Regions from separate parts of the Homo sapiens genome. Here region 2 is reported to be linked to region 1. The links are microRNA targets in miRTarBase. Many come from high-throughput screens and were not tested one by one. Region 1 holds a microRNA gene; the other region holds the end of a gene's coding sequence.

Region 1 (5,394 bases):
GATGGATTTGATCACAGGCTTACTTCAGTTTGGTTCTCCCAGAAACAAGGCTCACTTCTACTTGTGAAGTGCGAGGAGCCATCTAGGAAGGAGGGGATGTGAAAAGGGAAGAAGAGGCTGCCAGTAAAAAGGTTTCTATTAAGCTGGGCATCTCAGAGGAGACTGGAGCTTACACACATGAGGCATTCTAAGAAATGGCACAGAATTGCTCGTCTCATAATTATCTTGCCAACTGCTAAACAATCTTTTTTTTAAAAAAAGAATTGTTATTTAAAGCCTGCTCCTAGAGGCTGTAAACACCCGAGGCATTTTTGGTTTTCCGTATGTGCAGGGTGAGCAGAGTGGCCTTCCTAGGTTTCTGAAAAAGCCCCCAGACACAGAGAAGCAGACAGTGGCATATAGACGTCAGCAGGGGAACACTGAAAGATCTGAATGATATGGGTAGGGTACCAAGAATGTGAGCTACACACCTCTATTCATAACAGAATTTTGAGCTCCAATCAAGGCATGGATATATTCTTATTTATAAATTACATAGAAATAATTTTTCCATGATTATGTATATCATAGTACATACACAAAAAACCTCTTTTAGAGAATGATATAACAGTAATTGAGAACGGAGTTTCTAATACTTTCTTCCTGCAAGCCAGTAGATTGTCCTGTACAGCCCGGGGAGTGTGGGCACCCCCAAAGTGGAAACGAGTGCCCTGGGAAAGGAAAAATTCCATTTCCAAGATCCAGGCATGTGAGAATTACGTGAAATTAAATATGTGGACTTGCGGTTTTTGGTTCTTGGAAAAATAGAAAGGTATAGTGGGTTGCATGCAGTTCTAGCTGCATTCCAGCTAGAAACAGATTGAGACAGTTCAGATTCACAGGCACTTGCAGGGCAAGTTTTCAATGTCACTGTGGCTTTACCACGTAGGCAAATTTGAAAATAGACACACTAAATATTGACTACAGGAAAAGAAAAATGTGTATTTATTCATACAAAACACATTTATTTAGCATCTATAATGTGCTGTGCCCTGACCTATAGTGACCCAAACAGATTAGCAGATCTCACCCGATCTTGTAGTGCAGTGATTTGAATAGCAATGATCTTTGGACCCTAAGCAACCCAGTTTGGCCATTCCCTGATGTCATTTTTTTCCCCCATTTCCATTGTTATTTTTTGAGAACATACAGACGCTTTTTGATCCATTTGTTGTAAGAACCTAGCCTCTTGATCAGTTGCATTTACAAAATAACAACATTGATAATTTCATAAATGTGTAAGATTTACAGCTTACAAAGAACTTGCACACACATCTCATGCATAACTCACAAAACCTCTTAATTCTTTCCCAATAATACAGGGGAATCATGGACTCAGGGGCTGACCTCCAAAGACGCTGTTGGTGGTAAATTGTTAGAGCCCCGAGATGTGACTTAAATTTAGGTTTTCTGACAGAGGTGTGCTGCTCGTCTCTATGCTAATCCATTACACAGCCAGACAGGAAGAACTGTCAGTAGATTCTGATCAATTTCTCTTTCTATAAAAAAAAATGATAAGCTTAGTTAAATTGTATTAGATAAGTGAAGGGTTGTTTATAACAGTCCAGCCTCCCCTTAGCTTCTTCTATGGCTTTCATTAGGCTCCATCAAAGCCTACTCTCAAAACAAAATATAAAAATAATTGTTAACTACTAACATTGATTCTGTGATCTTCCTTTTAAACTCATCTATCTATCTATCGATCTATCTATCCATCCATCCATCCATCCATCCATCCATCCATCCATCCATCTATCCACCTAGCTATCCTTCTATGTTTGCAGTCAGTTGCTAGTTATTAAGATAATCAGAATTGCTTTCAGAATTAATAATTGGTATAAATTTCAGAAGAGTTTGAATTTAGGTGGCAAATTCATAATAAGTGAGAAGGTAAGCTATAGCATCCTCTGATAATGTGTGCAGTTTACTTTTTATCTGTCTCTTTCTAATTGAAAACTAACAAATATAGCCCCAATTAAATGCACGTAAAAATTAGAAGCTGGTGGGATAGGGTATTAAACACAATCCTAGATGACTCTTATGAACTCATACCATAAGCAGCCACTTTCTTTCTCGAGCAAACTATAGTGAGAATGAAGCATCTTAGATTGAGAAGGGATTAGGACGACCCTGAATGGAATGGGCAAATCATAAACAGCTAGGCCCTTAGAATTTGGTTGCAGTCCCAAACCCAGGTCAGTTTTTAAACATGACTATCAGCTAGATATCCTTTCTCCACCATACAATAATAGATAACAACCTTAATAAGACGTGTAGACATTAAACTTTGAAATTCCACAGTAAGATGTAAATATTTGCTCAATCAAGTACAATTTAATATGTTTGTTATACAGCAACTGCAGAGCACAGAATTTTGTACTCTTTGGATGTTTATGATAAGGTACACATTATTTGCAAGTTTTTGCTTGTTTCCTTGTTCAGTTTTTCATTATCAAACAAACAAAGCTTCTCAGCCTGGGATTAACCTGGAGTCTGGAAAGTATACATTATGGCCAGCAACTTTAAACAATAGGCCAGAGATGGGAAATGAATGAATGAAATTCTGACACAGAAGACAAACAACAGAAACTCATTTGGGCTAGTGTAGGTGTAGGTTTTTTATTCTTCAACCAACGGTGGTGAAGAGGATCTCCCTTCACTTTATGGAGGCCTTGCTGGTTTGGAAAGTTCATTGTTCGACACCATGGATCTCCAGGTGGGTCAAGTTTAGAGATGCACCAACCTGGAGGACTCCATGCTGTTGAGCTGTTCACAAGCAGCGGACACTTCCAACTCCATCTTCCCAAGAACTAAATGGGTGTCTTCTATAGTGTATGTGCAAATCTCCTTCAAAAGGAAGTCTTACTCTTCCTGCTTTCAAAAATGGGAACAAAATTCACACCTCAGCATCCAAGTATTTGTTATTTTTGTGGATATTGTTAGAGCTGGTGTCACAATGTAAACTACTAGGATGAAAATAAGTATTAAAAGATTTCTCTTTTAAAAAGCTGATTAGAAATGATAGAAGTATAAGTAAAATATTTGTTTGTGAATTTTAATTATGTACAGAATGAATTTTAGTAACAGGCAAATCTAGCATTTAAGACTGCAATTTTCTAAAATTTAAATTTATTGGATTTCTAAAGTTGGTGTATCAGCATATTATTCTTAAATAATACGCCTTCTGTTTTACAATATTTCTCATTTTTATTTATATCTTTAATTGGCTAAATGTTTTATAATGTTAATTAATAATGCTGAAACAGTCATTCTTGTGATGTTTTAATAACTCTACTAGTGTTTTAACAGTAATATGGCCTTGGGGTTTGGTTTAAAGTAGGTGTTGTACATGATATTAAGGAGATGACCTTTATCAAATGTTTTATTTTTCTTGTATTGGAATTATCATATATATATATTTTCTTATTCAGACTATGTGAAGTGACATGTTATTTGTTTTCCTGATACTAATACATTTCTAAATCCAATGGCTTTAATTGTCATGATATGTTACTCTTTTAATGTACTATTGAATTCCATTTGCTACCATTTTACTAAAGCATTTTGCATCTACATTTGCAAGTGAAACTGAGTTAAAAGTTTGTTTTTTTAATTTTTGAGTTATCTTTGGCTGAAATTTATTTCATAATCACTTGATTATATAAAACCAATTGGTAGCTTCCCCTTCATCCTTATACTGTTGAAAATTTTACATAGAACGATGATCAATTCTCTAAATGTTTGAATGGCCCTTCCTGGAAAACTTCTGGTAAAAAGCTCAAATCATTTTTTACAACAGTTTTAAAAATTATTATAACATTTTTCTAAGTCACTTGCCTATTCACATTTTCTATATCTCTACTCATTAATTTTGTTAAATTATAGATGGCTACCATTATCTATTTAAGAAAAATGCTTGTAGTATTTATCAAATAATTGTGCATATGATTCTGTTAAAATAATTATTCTCCAAATTTATCTTTCCTTTCTTTTTCCCAATATTAAATGTTTTTCTCATGCTTTTTTGCCAGAGTTTTGTGGCTTTTGATTTTTATAATTTATTACTTATCTTACTTTTGTAGTTACTTCTTTTTAATTCTGTAGAGGTTTTTGTTTCCCTTTTTAAAATAATTTCTTGAGTTTAAAGCTTAGTTTCTTCTGCATTATAAAATTTTGATACTTCTTCTTTAATATTGGGAACATTTATAGCTATGAATTTGTTTCTGACAACTGCTTTAGTCTCATCTAAATGTTTAAAATATAGCCTGGTTAACATTAAGGGAGCACAGGCTTGCTGCTTTTCAGTCTTTTGGCTAAGACCAGGTGAAAAAGAGCACGGGTTTAGAATCAAGGAGCTTAGGTTTGAATTCTGACAGTTTCACACATGTTGTGAGAGGGACTTTAACTCACTACACTTCTGTATTTGTAATTTAGAGTGAGTATATTTACATTATAGTGCTTTGTAAGATTAAATGAGATATGTTTATAAGTGTACAGTACTGTGATGATAGCAAAATCAAATGTTCAACACAAATATTAATATTGGTTGAAAATTATAGTTTGGGTTGTTCTTTTTTGTATAATAATTTTAATTTTTAAAATCTGAAGTGCTAGATGTTTGTTGCTTTTGTTGTTATTTCAAATTGTCTTACAAATTTCTAATTTTATTGCATTTTGCCCCAATAATATGGTCTTAGAATGTCTATATTTTGGGAATTTTCTAAGCTTTTCAGTTTTTGAGTTGTTTGGATAACTGAAGATCATTTTCTTTGTTGAAAAGGGCCAAGATATACACACACATGCACACAAAATGCACTCGTTTTTTATTTGTATTTATTTCCCATATTCATTATATTATTCATTTATTTTTGTTCTTATTTTTTAAAATAAATCTACCTGATTTGTAGCTGTATTTGCATTTTTTGCACCTATCATGTTTGAATCAAATTCTGTTGGTTTTTAAACATATTTTGAATTTTATACATAACTAAACTATTTTTCTCTGTTCTGTTCAGTACACTTTGCTTGTAATTCTAGTTTATCTGAAACTAATATGGCTGCTTCCTATTTCTTCTGTTTTAGTTTGCCTAAAAGAATTTGTCATCATTTTAAACTATCTGTGCCATTTTATTCAGATCAATCCCCTTTAAGTATTTTATAATTAGAATTTATTTATTTATTTATTTTGATCTTCCAGTCTCTGCTTTTAAATTGGTAGTTTAATTCTCTCATATTTTCTCTTCTCTTTTTTTGTGGTTTTATTATTTTTACTTCCCTTATGTTTCAATATTTTCTCCCACATATTTTTCAACTTTCTCAAAATATTGATTGCGAGAGTATCTATCAATACATATT
Region 2 (5,394 bases), not on the chromosome of region 1:
TTCAGCCAGAGATCAAATCTTGTTCAACATCAGAGGATTCATACTGGAGAAAAACCCTATGAATGTAAGGAATGTAGGAAAGCCTTCAGTCAGAATGCACACCTAGTTCAACATCTGCGAGTTCATACTGGAGAAAAACCTTACGAATGTAAGGTATGTCGAAAAGCCTTCAGCCAGTTTGCCTACCTTGCTCAACATCAGAGAGTTCACACGGGAGAGAAACCCTATGAATGTATCGAATGTGGGAAAGCATTTAGCAACAGATCATCCATTGCTCAACACCAGAGAGTTCATACAGGAGAGAAACCCTATGAATGTAATGTCTGTGGGAAAGCATTTAGCCTTCGTGCATACCTTACTGTACATCAGAGAATACATACTGGAGAGAGACCCTATGAATGTAAGGAATGTGGGAAGGCCTTTAGCCAGAATTCACACCTTGCTCAACATCAGAGAATTCATACTGGAGAAAAACCTTATAAGTGTCAGGAATGTAGGAAAGCATTCAGCCAGATTGCCTACCTTGCTCAGCATCAAAGAGTTCATACTGGAGAGAAACCCTATGAATGTATTGAATGTGGGAAGGCTTTTAGCAATGACTCGTCCCTTACTCAACATCAGCGAGTTCATACTGGAGAGAAACCTTATGAATGTACTGTTTGTGGAAAGGCTTTTAGTTACTGTGGATCCCTTGCCCAACATCAGAGAATTCATACTGGAGAGAGACCCTATGAATGTAAGGAATGCAAAAAAACCTTCAGGCAGCATGCACACCTTGCTCATCACCAGAGAATTCACATTGGGGAGTCACTGTCACCACCCAACCCAGTCAATCACCAAGTCCTATAGATCCTGAGTCCTAAATGTTTCTAGAATTTATACTGTTTTTTATCTTTAATGTTGTCACCTTGGTCTGATTCATCTCACTCTGATTACTAATATAGCTTTCAAACAGGTTTTCCTGTATTTATTTTTGCTACCTTTAAATCCATTTCCCACAATGCACTCAAACGGATCTTTTTTTTCTTTTTTTTTCTTTTTGAGACAATGTCTTGCTGTGTTGCCCAGGCTGGAGTACAGTGGGACGATCTCAGCTCACTGCAACCTCTGACTCCCAGCCTCTGCCTCCAGGGTTCAAGCAATTCTCATGCATCAGCCTCCCGAGTAGCTGGGACTATAGACATGCACCACCATGCCTGGCTAATTTTTGTATTTTTTAGTAGAGATGGGGTTTTGCCATGTTGGCCAGGCTGGTCTTGAACTCCTGATCTCAAGTGATCTGTCTGTCTCGGCCTCCCAAAGTGCTGGGATTACAGGCATGAGCCACCACGCCCAGCCTCAAAGTGTTCTTTTTAAAGAATAAGAAAACACACATGGGCTGGGTGTGATGGCTCATGCCTGTAATCGCAGCGCTTTGGGAGGCCAAGGCAGGCAGATCACCCAAGGTCAGGAGTTTGAGACCAGCCAGACTAACATGGCGAAACTCCATCTCTACTAAAAATACAAAATTAGCCGGGCGTGGTGGTGCACACTTGTAATCCCAGCTACTCTGGAGGCTGAGGCAGGAGCATTGCTTGAACCCAGGAGGCAGAGGTTGCAGTGAGCCGAGATGGCGCCATTGCATTCCAACCTGGGCAACAAGGCTGCAACTCCGTCTCAAAATAAAAAGAAAAGAAGAGAAAAGAAAACACATGTTACTATCTCCAGTTAAAACTTTTTTTTTTTTTTTGCTTGTTATTGTTCTTAGACTAATATTCACAGCCTTTAAAATTGTCTGCAAGGCTTTTGTTATTTGGTTCTTACACACCATTCAGCCTTATTTTATTCCAGTCTTCTTCTTTGGGCACTAGGCACTTCCCAGGACTAAGAGCTTAGATTCTGGAAAATCATAGCTCCAACACTACTATGGCATTGCGTGACTTTGAGCAATTTGCTTATCTAAACCTCAGGGTTTTCTTTAAATCTTAAAATAGGAATAATATAGGATACTGTACTGTAGAAATGTAAGTATTAAGTGAAATAGTGTCTGTTGTAGATTGATGCATATTAAATGAGAAATTTGCATGTAAAATACTTCATATAGTCTGTCAAATATAGCAGATATTCAATAAATGATAATAGCTAACATGTATTGAGTGCCCACTACACATCAGGCACTGTCTTACATACTCTACATATATTAACTCATCTACTCCTCACAAAACAAGATTCCTTATTGGACAAAGTGGAGCATTCCTGCAAAACACCAGTTCAGAATTTGGAAAATCTAAAAATGTTAGAACATAAATGGCAGTCTTTGTACTGTAGCTTAGTAGTTGTTATGAAGTCAGGTAGTGGAACTATAACACTGACAGCCAGTTTTAGGAAGTTTCTACAGATAATGAATTGGATAAGCCAATTAAGAAAAATAGAATTCACTGGGAAGAATGCAGAACCTACATTTAAATCAAGGAAGGAATAGAAATGGTCACAATTAACCAAAAAAAATCAATAAACATAGAAATTCATGTGATCCCCTTAAATAGGCACCACACCCTGGCCAGGTGCAGTAGCTCATTCCTGTAATCCCAGCACTTTGGGAGGCCGAGGTGGGTGGATTATGAGGTCAGGAGTTCGAGACCAGCCTGCCTAACATGGTGAAACCCCATCTCTACTAAAAATATAACAGTTAGCCAGGTGTGGTGGCGCACGCCTGTAATCCCAGCTACTCAGGAGGCTGAGGCAAGAGAATTGCTTGAACCCAGGAGACAGAGGTTGCAGTGAGCTGAGATCGTGCTACTGCACCCCAGCCTGGGCAATACAGCAAGACTCCATCTCAAAAAAAAAAAAAAAAAAAAAAAAAAAGCACTACCCCCAGCTAATTGTATGGTTAAATTCGGGTAATTTAGAAGGCATGTAAAGTGTTCCATACTATAGAAAAATGTAAAGTTTTAAAATTATTTATCCAGTGGTTGCAAAATTGAAATCAAAAGGGGATTAAGGGAAGAAAACAGATAGATACACAAATAATATAGGCATTCATTCTGTTAATATTGAGTAATTACTGTTTGTCAGACACTGTTTTAGGTATGAGGAAATGACAGTGAGCAATACAAAGGCCACATTCTCATGGAGTAAAATTCCAGAGGTGGAGACATGTAATTAATACTTAAATATAAAACAGTAGATTTTCTAAACGCAGAAAACGGAAGAGTAACAAGAAACTAAATCAAGGAGCATTATATAGCCTAGACTGCAGAGACTCAATATAATAAAGTTGGCGATTCTTCCTAATTATCAAATTTACTGCAATTCCAGCCAAAATGTTTCAGTGGTTTTTTTTGTTTGTTGTTTTTGTTTTTGTTTTGCCCTTTAGCTTCACAGGTTTGTTCTGAAATTTATGAGGTATAAATTCTTAAGAGCAGCAAGAAAAATTTCGAATCTATTTGTAGAAACTGCATATGATGATGGTTCATACCAGTAGAGAGAAAGATTGGATTTGGGGGTATTACTAGTAGTAAGGGGATTCACTAGTAGTAAGGGAAATGCAAAATAAAATCACATTGAACTAGTTCAAAATCATCACATTGGCAAAAGCATTAGAGTGCCAATTACTGGAAAGATGTGGAGCAATAGGAACACTCATACGGTGCTATAGGAAGTAGTTGTGTTTAGCATAATTTGGCAATGTCTAGTAAAGTTGAAGATGTGAATAATCTTTGACCCAGCAATTCCATGTTTAAACCTCTACATAGTCTCTCCTCGTGTTTCAAGGAGATACATATGATGGTCCATTGCAGAACTGTGAGAATGAGAAGTTGAAAGCAATCTAACCATTAGGTTAAATACAAGATAGAATGCAAACTAAAATGAATAACTAGAGATATTTCTGTCAACATGGGTAAACCTCAAAAATAGTATTAATGAAATTGAACTACAGACTATTTTATATAATACAGTATAACGTACAATTTCAAAACATGCAAATTAGTGTTATGTATTTTTGTCATGGCTAAATACTATATAAAAAGGATCTAAAAGAATTAATAAAATAATCATCAGATTCAGAACAGTGGTGACCTGCAGGGAGAAAGACAACTGAGATTGGGGAAAGGATGCAAATGAAAATACCTTTAATTATTCATTTCTTTTAAAAATAAGCAAATACTGTATAGCCAATTCTTAAAATTTGATAAAGCTGGCTGTGAGTATATGAGTCAGTTCTTACTCTCTGTATCTTTCTGTATAAACTATTTCATAATGCAAAAAAATAAAGAATATTTAAATGATGTTTGCTTCTATCAGTTCTTTTTTTTTTTTTCTTTTTTGAGATGGAGGCTCACTCTGTCGCCCAGGCTGTAGTGCAGTGGCATGATCTCGGCTCACTGCAACCTCCGTCTCCCAGGTTCAAGCGATTCTCCTGCCTCAGCCTCCCAAATAGCTGGGATTACAGGCACACGCCACCACGCTCAGCTAATTTTTGTATATTTAGTAGAGATGTGCTTTTGCCGTGTTGGCCAGGCTGGTCTTGAACTCTTGACCTCAGGTGATCTGCCTGCCTCGACCTCCCAAAGTGCTGGGATTACAGGCGTGAGCCACTGTGCCCTGTCAGTTACTTTTTTACTATTCCCAAGGTGTGCCACTGGTATTCCTGTATCCACCATTTTCTTCAGAAAGAAGCTTATATATGGTCTATTTGCAGAGGCAACCATTGTTAACAATTTTAAGACTATCTTTCCATGTTTGACTCATTTGAGAATGACGTTTTATGCTAAGGGTTTTATAAGCCTAATTTTCCCATCATCATTCTTATTGTTTTCAGGACCCCATTGTATATGCACCATGATTTGTTAATTTCCCTTTGTGTACTAAGTGTCCAGAATTTTTGTGGGCCAATTACTATCCTTTCTGAACTCAATTTTCTCAGATGTTAAAGGGAGGTAATTCTTTGTTTTAGAACTGTTACATGCATTTGTCATAATACATGTTAAATTTACAGCAGTATTTAGTAAAAGTTATTATTTTATAAAATATACTGGGGGTTGTGAAAGGAAACAGGAAGGGAAATGGCATGAGGCTGTTACAGTAGAAGCAAGCGGTAGAGACAGAAATTTACTTCAGATAGGCAGCATACAGAAACAAATACATAGTAACTCTGGATTTTAAAATGGATGCCTAACTTAGTCACTGTGATTATAATCAATATCCAGCAGAATTTGTTGATAGCTTCCCATTTTTATTATATTTTTCTCATTTATAAGTCAATGGAAAAATAAGCAATTAAGAATATCAAGGAAATTGTCTATCACTGTCAAAGAGAGGCTTCAGACATCCATAGCTGAATGGTTGAAAATATCAACAGAAACAGGATGGCAGAGTGAGGAAGAGTGCTTGTCCACCACACTCCAACACACT

The links. The annotated mature microRNA hsa-miR-490-3p reads CAACCUGGAGGACUCCAUGCUG and lies in region 1 at 2,779-2,800, shown strand. An mRNA with a match to its seed (bases 2 to 7 or 8) in the 3' UTR can be bound and repressed. Matches are read on the target gene's strand: a 7mer-m8 pairs with bases 2 to 8, a 7mer-A1 pairs with bases 2 to 7 and ends in A, and an 8mer does both.
Region 2: miRTarBase lists ZNF570 as a target of hsa-miR-490-3p. The part of its 3' UTR that is shown has no 7-base or 8-base seed match.

Annotation. Positions count from the first base shown.
Region 1 is chr7:136,900,464-136,905,857 of GRCh38, forward strand. MIR490 (microRNA 490) reads left to right here and starts at 2,704; the gene lies at 2,704-2,831. All of the region lies in intron 2 of CHRM2 (cholinergic receptor muscarinic 2), which reads left to right. It overlaps LOC349160 (a long non-coding RNA gene), which reads right to left. Exons shown (of 4, transcript NR_046103.1): 3 at 1,387-1,538.
Region 2 is chr19:37,484,385-37,489,778 of GRCh38, forward strand. ZNF570 (zinc finger protein 570) reads left to right here. Exons shown (of 5, transcript NM_144694.5): 5 at 1-4,268. The coding sequence ends at 849. Among named protein-coding and RNA genes, the nearest start is that of ZNF570, 18 kb to the left of the region's middle.